Linked DNA regions of Homo sapiens: all the other regions are reported to be linked to region 3. The links are microRNA targets in miRTarBase. Many come from high-throughput screens and were not tested one by one. Region 3 holds a microRNA gene; each other region holds the end of a gene's coding sequence.

Region 1 (4,000 bases), not on the chromosome of region 3:
TAGACAATATATGAAAAAGTGTTTATCTTGGAAGTCACACTTAAAAGAAGGCCTCTGGCCGAGCACGGTGGCTCATGCCTATAATCCCAGCACTTTCGGAGGTGGAGGAGGGTGGATCACTTGAGGTCAGGAGTTCAAGACCAGCCTGGCCAACATGGTGAAACCCTGTCTCTACTAAAAATACAAAAAATTAGCTGGGCGCACACCTGTAATCCCTGCTACTCGGGAGGCTGAAACAGGAGAATTGCTTGAACCTGGGAGGCAGAGGTTGCAGTGAGCTGAGATCGTGCCATTGCACTCCTGCCTGGGCGACAGAGCGAGACTTAAAGTCTCAAAAAAAAAAAAAAAGGCCTTTGACAAAGAGCAGTAATTTTTAAAGGGAAAACAAGATTGTGAAAACAAGGTCAATTAACAGTGACTCATTGCTTACTATGGTTCAGATACTGTTAAACACTGTTACACGAAGACATGGGCGCTGTTCTTGATCTTGTGGCCCAGTAGGGGGAGACAGGCTCCTTAACACACTGCTTTGCGCACAATTTAAGTTCTGCACAATGGGCTTTTGAAGCAGAGTGCAATTTAGTCCGGATTGCTGGAGGCCAATAAAAGCTGTCTGGAGAAAATGACACCTAGAAGGAGTCTTGAAGGATAAGAAGGATTTAGCCAAAAATGGAAAGAAAGAGAAGGAAACCTTCACTGGAGAGACTATAATAATCAATTTTGAATATTTGAATATGTGATGAGAGGAATTTTGTGTGTGTGGCTCCCGAGATAAGACAGATAGAAGCAAATTTCAGTTCAGTATATGAAAATTCATTTATTTAGTGAAACCCTGACATTAAAGCGTCCCAACACAAAGCAGATTCGAACATAACAACTGGTGATTGGCTCATCTCACAGGCTCACATCATCAGTGTGTTAACATACAATAGGACTGTACCCTTTTACAGGATTGAGTGTTTTGGATCCCACTCACACACTAAAACCCTGCCATAAAGTTGTATCAATTAGGGCTGTTCAAATGTGAAACTGTATTGGAAAATGGGAAACTTTATCTCCTTATATATGTATATTTTTTGAGATGGCGTTTTGCTCTTTTGCCCAGGCTGGAGTGAAGTGGCACGATCTTGGGTCACTGCAACCTCTGCCTCCCGGGTTTGAGCAATTCTCCTGCCTCAGCCTCCCAAGTAGCTGGGATTATAGATGCCTGCCACCACGCCCGGTTAATTTTTTTTTTGCATTTTTAGTGGAGACGGGGTTTCGCCATGTTGGCCAGGCTGATCTCGAACTCTTGACCTCAGGTGCTTCACCCACCTCGGCCTCCCAAAGTGCTAGCATTACAGGCGTGAGCCACCATGCCTGGCCACCATATGTTTTTAAGTATAGGTTGGATGATAATTTGTTGGGAATACCATAGAAGGGATGATGAAATTTAGGCTGGAGATGATCACCAAGGTACTTTCTATCTCTAAGATCCTGCAACCCTTGAAAGACACTCTATTTGACAGTTTCATGAATAAAGGCAGTGACAATGAACAAATTCATAAATTACGGTGTTACATTACATAAAGCTTAGTTTCTTATTAAAATTGGCAAAACTTGTCAATTGGCATGAAATGTAATGCTGTTAAAATATACTTTCTCTTATGGTTACAAATACTAAGTGGCTCACGCCTGTAATCCCAGCACTTTGGGAGGCCGAGGCGGGCTGATTACCTGTGGTCAGGAGTTCGAGACCAGCCCTGGCCAACATGGTGAAACCCTGTCGTCTCTACTAATACAAAAATCAGCCGGGAGCAGTGGCTCAAGCCTGTAATCCCAGCATTTTGGGAGGCTGAGGCAGGTGGATCATGAGGTCAGTTCAAGACCAGCCTGGCCAACACAGTGAAACCCCATCTCTACTAAAAATACAAAAATTAGCTGGGTGTGGTGGTGAGCACCTGTAATCCCAGCTACTCGGGAGGCTGAGGCAGGAGAATTGCTTGAACCTAAGAGACGGAGGTTGCAGTGAGCTGAGATCATGCCATTTCACTCCAGCCTCAGCAACAAGAGCAAAACTCCATCTCAAAAAATATATATATTTATTAGGACAGAAAAGCAAAACCTTACCATAATTCCATAACTATGATTATTGGAATTACAAAGTAAATGAACACTTCAATTGTCTAATAGCAGTGATTTGTCATTAAGGTCTCAGGTCAATAATACATTTAAAATCTAACAAAGTTTGGAAAGATAGTATCATTAAATTATCTTAAAACACTACATTAGTTCATTATTATCCCTGCAGACAAGGATAAAGATGGTTGGTAACACTATAGGTGGCTAAAACAAAGTAAAAGGATCAAAATGGCAAAATTCTTTACTCTGATCATATCATTTGATTAATCACACTTTTATCTATCACATTTTTAGTTTGGAAATAGTTTGCTTATCAATATAGAATTCTACTTTATTGCACAATGTCCAGTTTGGCAACTTTCAGCTATGCTGTGAAGCTAAACAAAAGCAAAGTTGGGTCTAACAAGCTGAAAGAGTTCTGCTCAAAAACCTATTCTGAAAAAGGAACTTGTCAAAACATTTTCACCTTAAAAAAATTTCAGGCCGGGTGCAGTGGCTCACACCTGTAATCACAGCACTTTGGGAGGTCGAGGCGGGTGGATCATGAGGTCAAGAGATCGAGACCATCCTGGCCAACATGGTGAAACTCTGTCTCTACTAAAATTACAAAAATTAGCTGGGCGTGGTGGCGCACACCTGTAGTTCCAGCTACTCAGGAGACTGAGGCAGGAGAATTGCTTGAACCTGGGAGGTGGAGGTTGCAGTGAGCCGAGATTGCACCACCGCACTCCAGCAGAGCAAGACTCTGCCTCAAAAAAAAAAAAAAAAAAAAATTGAACACAGCTACACATCTTTGTCATTTTTGCTCTACTCAATTCTTTCTGAAAAAGTTTATTATTATTAAGGAAATAAAGTGTGGAAGGATCATAGGAAATACTTGCAATAAAAAGAATAATCATTAACATTGGCAACTGCCACTAGGAAGGTGTATATGCCACATACTACTGATAAAAATTGTAGGAACCCATTGGTAGTTCCCATAACCACCATTGATGTGTTAATTCCCACAACATCAAAAATAAAGAATTAGTTCCACAAGCTGTCTGTCAATAATACTCTGAAGGCAACCTATTCATCAGCACCAGAATCCCACTGATTTTCTTCCACATGTTCACAATCTTTTGCCATCAGTCATCTATCGGATTCTACAACTGTTTGGGAGTGTCAGGCTAACAAAAGTCAAAACTGGGCATTGACATTAATGGTAGTTTACTGATGTTTCCCCTGCAAATCTCGTATTTTCTGATACTAAAATTTTGCACAGAAGTTGGATTTCAAAAGGCTAATTGCATGTTCTATCTGAAATCTTATAATTATAGTACTTCTACGAAAAAAGATGTCTAGTAACATAAATTGCTTCTGCATCGGTTCCACAAACAAGACAAGGACCTAAAACATCCAAAGTGTTCACAGACAGAGACCTACTGGGAAGTAAGCTTGTGATTTCAATTCGGTCTTTTGCAGGATCAGTGCTGAGCCAGGAGCTAATGACAGACTGGTGAACATTAGCTTGGTTACTAATGCTATGAGACAAAAAAGTACTGCTTCTTCCTCCTGGGAGAAAAAAAGAAAAGGAAGAAATCTTTCAAGATGATTTTTATATTAGTAAACATTCAAACTTCTACTGATATTTAGAAAGGTGATGATATCAATGTGTTTAATTCTCAGAATAATAGGCTAATAATTCCATTATTATACATCACCACTTTGGACCAAAGGCTTATTCAGTGATATTAAATATTCAAATTTCCATGGGATAATATGGATACCAAACTCGAAGTCTTCAGGAAAAGCAGGTGATTTCAACTGACTTTCTGTTCATCTTTTAATGGAAAGTCTCAGAAAGGTAGCAAAACGGCCAGCATACAAGTTGAATAAG
Region 2 (4,000 bases), not on the chromosome of region 3:
TAAGGTCTTTAATTTCAAAACACTTACTAAGCATAATATATCCAGAGATTGGCAATTAATTTTAACAATTTAGGTCTTTAGTAAAATTAATGTGGGCAGAAAATGTTACTTCATTACAAAGTGTTACTATATACTTTGTCTTGTGACTAACTAGAGCTTACAGGAGTATAAACAAGTTAACTGAATTTTTCAGTGGCTGAGGATTTTGTATACTTCCTCATTTTGAACTTCAATCATGACTATATAATCATATTCATACATCTGAGACTGAACTAGATATAAAGATATCACAACACCCACTAGAACTGGTTAATTAGATATGCCCATTATTTCTTCACTATTTACCGAAGAAAAGTATGAAGAAAAAAAGACTAATTTGGTTTAATTATGGTTACATAAAAATTATGTAAATATTCAAACATTTGATGAAATCATCATACTCCAACCATAAAGAATTGTAATTCCTAATGGTTAAGCAGCTTTCAGATATCATTAATAAAATACATGACTGTCATTAAAAAAATTATCATTCAGTGCTATTGATTTTATAAATAACCTTTTAGGTTAGGCCCTGCCATACCAAATTTCCTTCCTGCCTTTTTTTTTTTTTTTTTTTTGAGACAGACTCTCGCTCTGTTGCCCAGGCCAGAGTGCAGTGGCGTGATCTCGGCTCACTGCCAGCTCCGCCTCCTGGGTTCACGCCATTCTCCTGCCTCAGCTGTAGCAGCTAGGACTACAGGCGTCTGCCACCACGCCCAGCTAATTTTTTGTATTTTCAGTAGAGATGGGTTTTCACAGTGTTAGCCAGGATAGTCTCGATCTCCTGACCTCGTGATCCGCCCGCCTCGGCCTCCCAAAGTGCTGGGATTACAGGCGTAAGCCACTGCGTCCAGCCCTCTGCCTTCTTTTAAAATAAATCAGGTAGACCTAAACTAACTTAAATGTTCTCATGAAAATCAGTAAACAGCTTGGTTTTGTATTAACTTTTAGATCTCCTCAGGAACCTACATGTGACAAATTCCTAAGTTTAACACCTTAATATTACTAGTAAGTAGCATGAGTGGTAGACTATGTCTGGACTCCACATCCTGCCACTTCCATTCCAGTATCTGGACCACATCACCACTAGGAGTATGGAGTTAATCATCAGTATGACACAGCATTGAAATTCTAAGCACTGCTGTTACTAATTTTGTTAATGTATGCATATAAACAGGTATATAAACACTAAAGCCATAAAAGAGCAGTATCTATTTCTTTAGTACTAAAAGAATTTCAACTGTTAGAAAAATGAATTGGCTTAAGAGACAAAAACAAAGCAAAACAAAACAAAACATGCATCTTGAAAGTTAAAAACAAACAAACTGAAGAAAAAGCCAGTTGAAGTATTTGGATTTAACTTTACCCAACTAAGACATTCACACAACATATGCATGTCAGTCTCCTGTTCAGTCCTAGAGCCTGCAGTATTGTAATTTATTGTAAAACCATGTAACCAAATACTTAAATATATCCACAACATCTATACCACAGAAATGCATAGTACATAATATACTAACATCTCAAAATAAACTTCTATTACAGTTTTATGCAAATTATGGTAAAAGATTATCACCTGCCACATTTTGAAATGGCACCAACTTCAACATCAATGCACTAGTCAAAATCCTTACTAGAAGTGATGTCTTCTGCATTATCATCTGAACATTCAAAATCAAGCTGTTAATCTAATAACCACAGTATGTTATCATTTAAAATCACTGTATATTTGGATGTTAAAGCAGGTAGTAATACAGCAGGAAAAGTGTTTCTAATTCACAGTTTCAAAACTAAAGGGTGCAGTTTTCAAATATCTGATTGCTTAAATTGGTCACTCAATTTAACAACTGCCTCCTTCAATACATGTAAACTATGTTTGCACAGCATTAGGAGATGTCTTTTATTTCAGAATTAGTTCTTACTGTTACAGGAGCACCACAAATTTTAAGGAAGAGGCTACAGTGTGAAATGAGCTCACTGAAGGATATGTTAAATAAAATTTTAACTACAATATAAGGTACTGCAAAAGCTTTGTTCCCCAGCACAGATCCCTTAATCAGGAAAAGTAGTGAACACTTACCCAATACAATATGTAAATTCGCTCTACAGGAGATGGGGAAAAACCTAACTCAACTAAAAGAAAATACTATTATTAGCTAACAAACCTGTGATAGCTGGCTTCAGAATTTTCCTAAAAATAAAATTCAAAAGCATACACAGTATTTATATCCTTTGATAAGGAATGTAGACATCCAAACGGAATGAAAGAAAAATCTGGTTTTAAGAATTTCTAAGTGGAATCACACACACACAAATGGGTAACTGAGAAAAACTAAATATTCAAAATTTAAGTAAGAAGATTTATAATAGAAAAAAGTGGCAAATTGTTACTGTGACTTGATTTTCTGAAAACATCTGCAAATTCACACTGGCATTAAGAAAACCCAAGTCTCAAAAATTCTCCTTTCTTTCTCTCCAGATAATGTGTTTTCTGTGCAAAAATAAATATCTGAAAATTGCACTAATACTTATTTTAACTTCTATATTATGAATAATCTGCACATGCTGCTTTACAGACGATACATATTTGTAAACTTACTCATGCAAAATTAGTGTGCGCAACAGGGATATTGTTAATTTTCATACTTAAAAATGATACCTTATTATCTTTTAAAAATTGCCAAACTCTCTGAAATGGTTAACAAATCTTATATGGATATTCTTGTCTGCCAGCTAAAAATCAATTTATGTTGCTGAAAACAAAAAGTTATACAAGAAAAAGAAACATGGTTTTTGTTTTGCAAGATTTTTGATTTTTAAATGAGAAAATTTATAAAAGAAAGAAATTCATGGTCACAAAATTTTAACATTTTAATCCTAAACATTACAGGGTAAATAGATACTGGACCCTATCTCCATACTCCATAAAATCCTAACTTTTAGTTTCCATTTCAAATGTTGCTGTAACCACTAAAACACTAGTGGTTTTACAACCTCTGGATTATGGAAATACACATTTCTGAAATAAATGCTACAAAAACAACAATGGAAGAAAGCCAAACAAACAGTCTCCATGAAGGAAAAAAAAGTGGAACATTTTGAAGCTTTTAGACACTTCTCTTTCCATGTCTTATGATTAACCTGTCAATTCAGTGCATTGTATGGTCATATGTAATGGTCCCCATGGTGAACAAACATCTAACTAGTGTCCATTGATTCCAAGTTAGTAGATGATGAATCTTTCTGGATACTTTCAAAGATAGCCGCCAGCTCAGGGTTAGAACTGATCTGTGACTGGAATTCACTCATCAGTGGACTCTTCTCTGCTTCTGGAATGGTTAGCAGTGCTGCTACTGCTCTCATGGCAGATCGCTTTAATTCATCTTGTTTTTCAAACTCCTGCTTTACTGAGTTTGCCTTTACCTGTAAGATGGAGTAAACTTAGATTACATGCTATAAAAGACAGCTCTTACATGAACAAAATTTAAGCACATAAGATCTTCCTGCTAAAAGCTACTCTCGTAGGTCCATAAGGCATATTACATTCTAAGAACAACTGTTTTTAAACTTATTTTTAAAGTAGCTGTCTCCTTTTCTTTTAAGGGAATATTTTACACAAAGCCCCATTATAAAAACAGAAAATCTAGACCCAAATGATTGTAACAAAGAGAGTAGGACACTCTTTGTTTCAACTATCTGCTTAGCAAGTCTCACACTTTAGCCCCCATCAAGAAAGTACTCCTCTAGCTACCCTATTCTTTGCTATACTCTATTATTCACTTTTTCAAACACACCATATGATGACATCTCCAGGCCTTTATTCAAAGCCCGTTTCATCTTCTTGGTCTAAAAAAAAAAAAATCTTGATTTTTCGAGGTTCATTGCAAATGTTGTCAACCTAATATGAAACCTTCTGACTCCCCTTCCAACCAGAATTAAAAATTTCCTCTTTTGTGGCCTG
Region 3 (4,152 bases):
AGGGTCCCGGTTCTTGAGCTGCAGTGACAAGTCACTGATGCTCCTGATGCAGGCATCACCCACTGTGTCCTGCAGGGGAGGTATGGGTGAGGGCATTGGCACCCCCCATGCAGAGCCCCTTCTTCCCACCTCAGCAGGCACTGAAAGCATGCCTGGGCCCCGGAGCATGAGGAACTGCATATTTGGGCAGTGGGAAGAACTGCCTCCTGCCTCCTCTACTGCGGCAGGTCCCTGAGGTCACCCCGTCCAGGTGAAGTGAGCAAGATCAGCTTGGAGCCTGCAGCCCCAGAGTCATCTCTAAGGCCAGAAAATGGGATCCCTGCACTGGGTACCATGTAGGAGGGGGAGAGTGGGCACATGCTCACTAACAGAGACTCTTGAGACGGAGTCTCCCTCTGTTGCACTGTTGTTGTAGTGGCACAATCTCAGCTCACTGCAACCTCTACCTCCCTGGTTCAAGCGATTCTCCTACCTCAGCCTCCCGAGTAGCTGGCACTACAGGTGCCTGCCACCAAGCCTGGCTAAGTTTTGTATTTTTCGTAGAGATGGGGTTTCACCATGTTGGCCAGGCTTGTCTCAAACTACTGACCTCAAGTGATCTGCCCGCCTTGGCCTCCCAAACTGCTGGGATTACAAGCGTGAGCCACTGTGCCCAGCCACAGAAACTTTTAAAATGAAAATTCGGCTTCTTGGTTGAAGAGAAGCAAAGGGAGGTTGTGGAATGGAACAGTGAGCTCTGGCTTCCTGGGGTTTGGGTGTCCCCACCCCAGGACTCGTCTGAGCTGAGGCTGGTGCTGCTTGGACACTGGATGGGGTTTAAAGGTACGCAGGGAGGGGGTCCACCGCAGGGTGTGATTGCAGATCTCCTGCCTCTGGCTTCTGTAGAGCTTGTTTAAATTTCCAAAGCACTTTCCTATGAAGTGCCTCATTTGCAAGGTAGGCAGGGAAGGACATTCCCCTCCTTTTATAGATGCCGGAGCAGAGCTCAGAGGCTAACCTGGCTCCTTTGCGGCAGAGCCAGGATTCAAGCCCAGCTCCTTTGGAGTCTAGCTCTCTTCCTACTGCAGCATCTGGCACAGCGTCTGTGAAATTCCACCATTAACAAGGGATGTCTTAGGTTTAAGCACTGCCGCCTCTTAAAAAGTAATACATACATGTACCGGGGGACAAGGTTAGCACATTTGGTCTTTAACACCTGATTGTCAATACATTTGCCATTTTTTTCCCCTGTATACCACATAAGAGAAATAGATGTTTGGTGTGTGTATGTGTGAGGGGGCGGGTGTGGGGTGAGAAGACGCTGAGACGCTGAAATAGTCACACTGAAGGTGGGCGCTGATTATCTGCCACATCCAGGCATATGTCCTATCTTTTTAAGATTTTTTGAAATAATTATAGATGCCCAGGAAATTGCCAAAGTCCTGCAGAGAGGTCCCTGTGCCCTTCCCCAGCTTCCCTTACAGCAGCATCCTATATAATGATAACATTAAAACCACAAAGCTGACGTTGGTGTAATACTACCAACTAGACCAGACCTCATTCAGATTTTATTAGTTTTTGCAAGTATGCATCTGTGCGGGGCAGTGGGGGATAGGTCTATGCAGTTTTATCACAGCTAGAGATTCACGTACCTGCCACCACACACGTGCTCTCTTACCTCTGAGGTGGGTGCTACCCCCATTCTAAAGAGGAAGGAGTGAAGGCGGGTGAGAGGAGGGAGCCTGCCCGAGGGCATAGGAGGAGCAGGCATGGCGCCCACGCCCTGCTCTACAGCCCACACTCTTTCCCTGCTCTCAGTTGGATTTTCAGTGCGGGATGCATGGCCAACCTCTACCCAGCAAGGCCCTCTTACCCCGGCCGAGTTTCCTCGGAACTCGCGGAGCCGCCGTCGGAGCTGCAGGCAGTGCTCCAGGTCCTGGCCCAGGTCACCAACATTCATCTTCACCTCCTGTGAAGGCCGAGGGTGGGGAGGGAGCGCTGTGAGCACCAGCCCAGGCTCCTGGCACCTGCTGCTGGGGATCCCTCCTGTCAAGGGAGGGCTCCTCCCCCCATCTCTCAGCCCCCACCCAGCTGGGGCTACACCTTCTCCTGGATCCAGGCCTCTGCAAGGTCCACTCTCTGCAGGAACTCCAGGAAGTTCCGCCTGTCCTCCAGCTCCTGGCCCCTGAGGGCCATTGCCTGCCTCAGGTCCTCCCAGTGCTTCCGCAGGCCCTGCAGCCGCTGGGAGACCTCTCCGGCTCGAGGGTGACTCTGTGCCAGGAGAGCCTCTCCCTTCTGGAGGGAGAGAGGGGACACAGGACATCTTGCCTGCTGCACTTCCTCCTAAGACTGACATTGCCCCTGGGCCACACTTTGGGGCAGGCATGGGGCTGAGGGCCCGGTTGTTACCTTGGCAACAGAGGTCATGACCTCCTCATGGGCCTGGACTTCAGCCTCAAAGGCCTGGTGTTTCAGCAGGGGCTTCAGCTTATCTCTCAGGTCCCCAGGAGGGACCGGCTCCTTCAGCTGCTGGGCCCACGCCTGGATCCAGTCCTCAGCCTGGTGGGGGTGGGACATGAATGCTGCAATGTTCTGCAGCCTCAGGCCCCAGACGCCACAGGCCTAGCCCCCAGCCATTCCCAGGAGGCTGGCCTCAGGGGTGGGGCGGGCAGCACCTGGTAAATGAGCCCTGAAGGTTCCAGCTCCGGAAGGTTGCTGCAGGAGGCAGCCGGGCAGGGCCTTGGGTGGGCTCTCGTTTTGGAGGTGTGGCCCCTACTCCTGGGGCCCTGGGCTGCTCTGCTCCCTTCCCCACCTCTCTTGCCCTGGCGCTGCTAGAGCTCGGGACACTGGTGAGGTCTCCACACAAAGGGGCTTAGATCCCATGTTCTGGGCTCCAGCACAGCCTCTGGGAAAGCCATCCACCCCCGAACCTGTTTCCGCCTCACAGTGTTGCGGTGTGAAGGCGGCTGAAAACTGTCGAGTGTGGTTCCAGTGGAAGGCCCTGGGCTGGGGGTGCCCTCTGACCTGGGTTGCGGCCTGGGTGAAGCTGGCCATCAGCAGGGAGGCATGCAGGGCGTGTCCCCGGCTCTCCGCCAGCTCCTTCACTCTCATCCGGCGCTGCAGCAGGATGGGAAGCCGGTCCCGCACCCGGGGGCGCCGGAGCGTCTTCAGCCGCTCACGCAGGGCTGCCTCCTGTGGGGCAGGGGCACAGCTGCTGCTCTCCCACCCTGGGCTGGGGCAGGGCCTGGCCTGCAGGGCTCACAGTCCTTTCTTTGAGGGCCCCGGAGCCCTTTCCTCAGCCCCACATGGCTGAGGGGTATCTGATCCTCCCAGCCACAAGCCAGACCAGTCTGCTCCCCAAGGACCACACGGTGTGGACAGAGCCAAATGCCCCGTGTGGGTCTCTGCAGTGTGGCCCATCTCCCCCTGGGCCCTCTTCTTGAGCCACACATACAACTTGCTCAGTCAACCCCAACCAGGACCCCAGCCTTGCAGGCTCATCAGCACTGCCTCCAGGAACACACCAAGCGCCCCGTGACCCCCTTCAGGACTCTCTCCCAACCACCACACTCTGACCACGCCCAGGCCTCCTGACTCCATTACCTTCTTGTCCTGGGCAGTCAGAACCTTCAGGAAGACCTCGTGCTTGCGAATCAACTGCTCTACCTCTTCCACCGAGCTCCCCAAGGCACTGGTTTTCAGGGAGACCTGGATCCACAGAAAAGTCAGAGGCCACCAAGCCTTCCAGCCAGCCAGCCCCTCCAGCTGCAGTCTGTGCCCATGGGCACTCTGGGTATGGCAGGGCCTTAGGAGTGCCCACTGAGCTTGGCATGGAGCTGTGAGGAGTGGGAGTCCAGGTTGGGAGGCTGCGATACCTCAACCTCTGCACCATGTGGGGAGCATGACCAGCCTCTGGCCAACTTCCTCGGGGCTCAGTCTGGGATAGGGGCTGGGGATGTCAGTGGACGCTCAGGGGCCTCAGCACTTCACCATGGCCACCTGGAAGGACTTGTGCACAGCTGCCTCATATTAGAGAAAAAGCCAGAGAGGCAGGAGGAAAGGGACTGAGCAGAGAGGAGAATAGAAAGGAGGAGCAGGAGGCTGAGCGGAGTGTGAGGGCGGGAGGGGACCTGCCTCCTGGGCCGCGAGGATCTCCTCCAGGCGGCCGCACTC

The links. The annotated mature microRNA hsa-miR-4310 reads GCAGCAUUCAUGUCCC and lies in region 3 at 2,550-2,565, opposite strand. An mRNA with a match to its seed (bases 2 to 7 or 8) in the 3' UTR can be bound and repressed. Matches are read on the target gene's strand: a 7mer-m8 pairs with bases 2 to 8, a 7mer-A1 pairs with bases 2 to 7 and ends in A, and an 8mer does both.
Region 1: miRTarBase lists NUP43 as a target of hsa-miR-4310. Seed matches in the 3' UTR shown: 7mer-m8 at 1,820-1,826.
Region 2: the mRNA of CAND1 is a reported target of hsa-miR-4310. Seed matches in the 3' UTR shown: 7mer-m8 at 1,921-1,927 and 7mer-m8 at 1,158-1,164.

Annotation. Positions count from the first base shown.
Region 1 is chr6:149,723,524-149,727,523 of GRCh38, forward strand. NUP43 (nucleoporin 43) reads right to left here. Exons shown (of 8, transcript NM_198887.3): 8 at 792-3,675. The coding sequence ends at 3,446. Among named protein-coding and RNA genes, the nearest start is that of LATS1, 7.4 kb to the left of the region's middle. RefSeq lists a silencer at 1,004-1,206.
Region 2 is chr12:67,312,068-67,316,067 of GRCh38, reverse strand. It overlaps CAND1 (cullin associated and neddylation dissociated 1), which reads right to left. Exons shown (of 15, transcript NM_018448.5): 15 at 1-3,462. The coding sequence ends at 3,238. Among named protein-coding and RNA genes, the nearest start is that of CAND1, 45 kb to the right of the region's middle.
Region 3 is chr15:41,863,956-41,868,107 of GRCh38, forward strand. MIR4310 (microRNA 4310) reads right to left here and starts at 2,596; the gene lies at 2,540-2,596. It overlaps SPTBN5 (spectrin beta, non-erythrocytic 5), which reads right to left. Exons shown (of 68, transcript NM_016642.4): 34 at 4,114-4,152; 35 at 3,583-3,687; 36 at 3,004-3,171; 37 at 2,389-2,538; 38 at 2,083-2,274; 39 at 1,853-1,948; 40 at 1-69.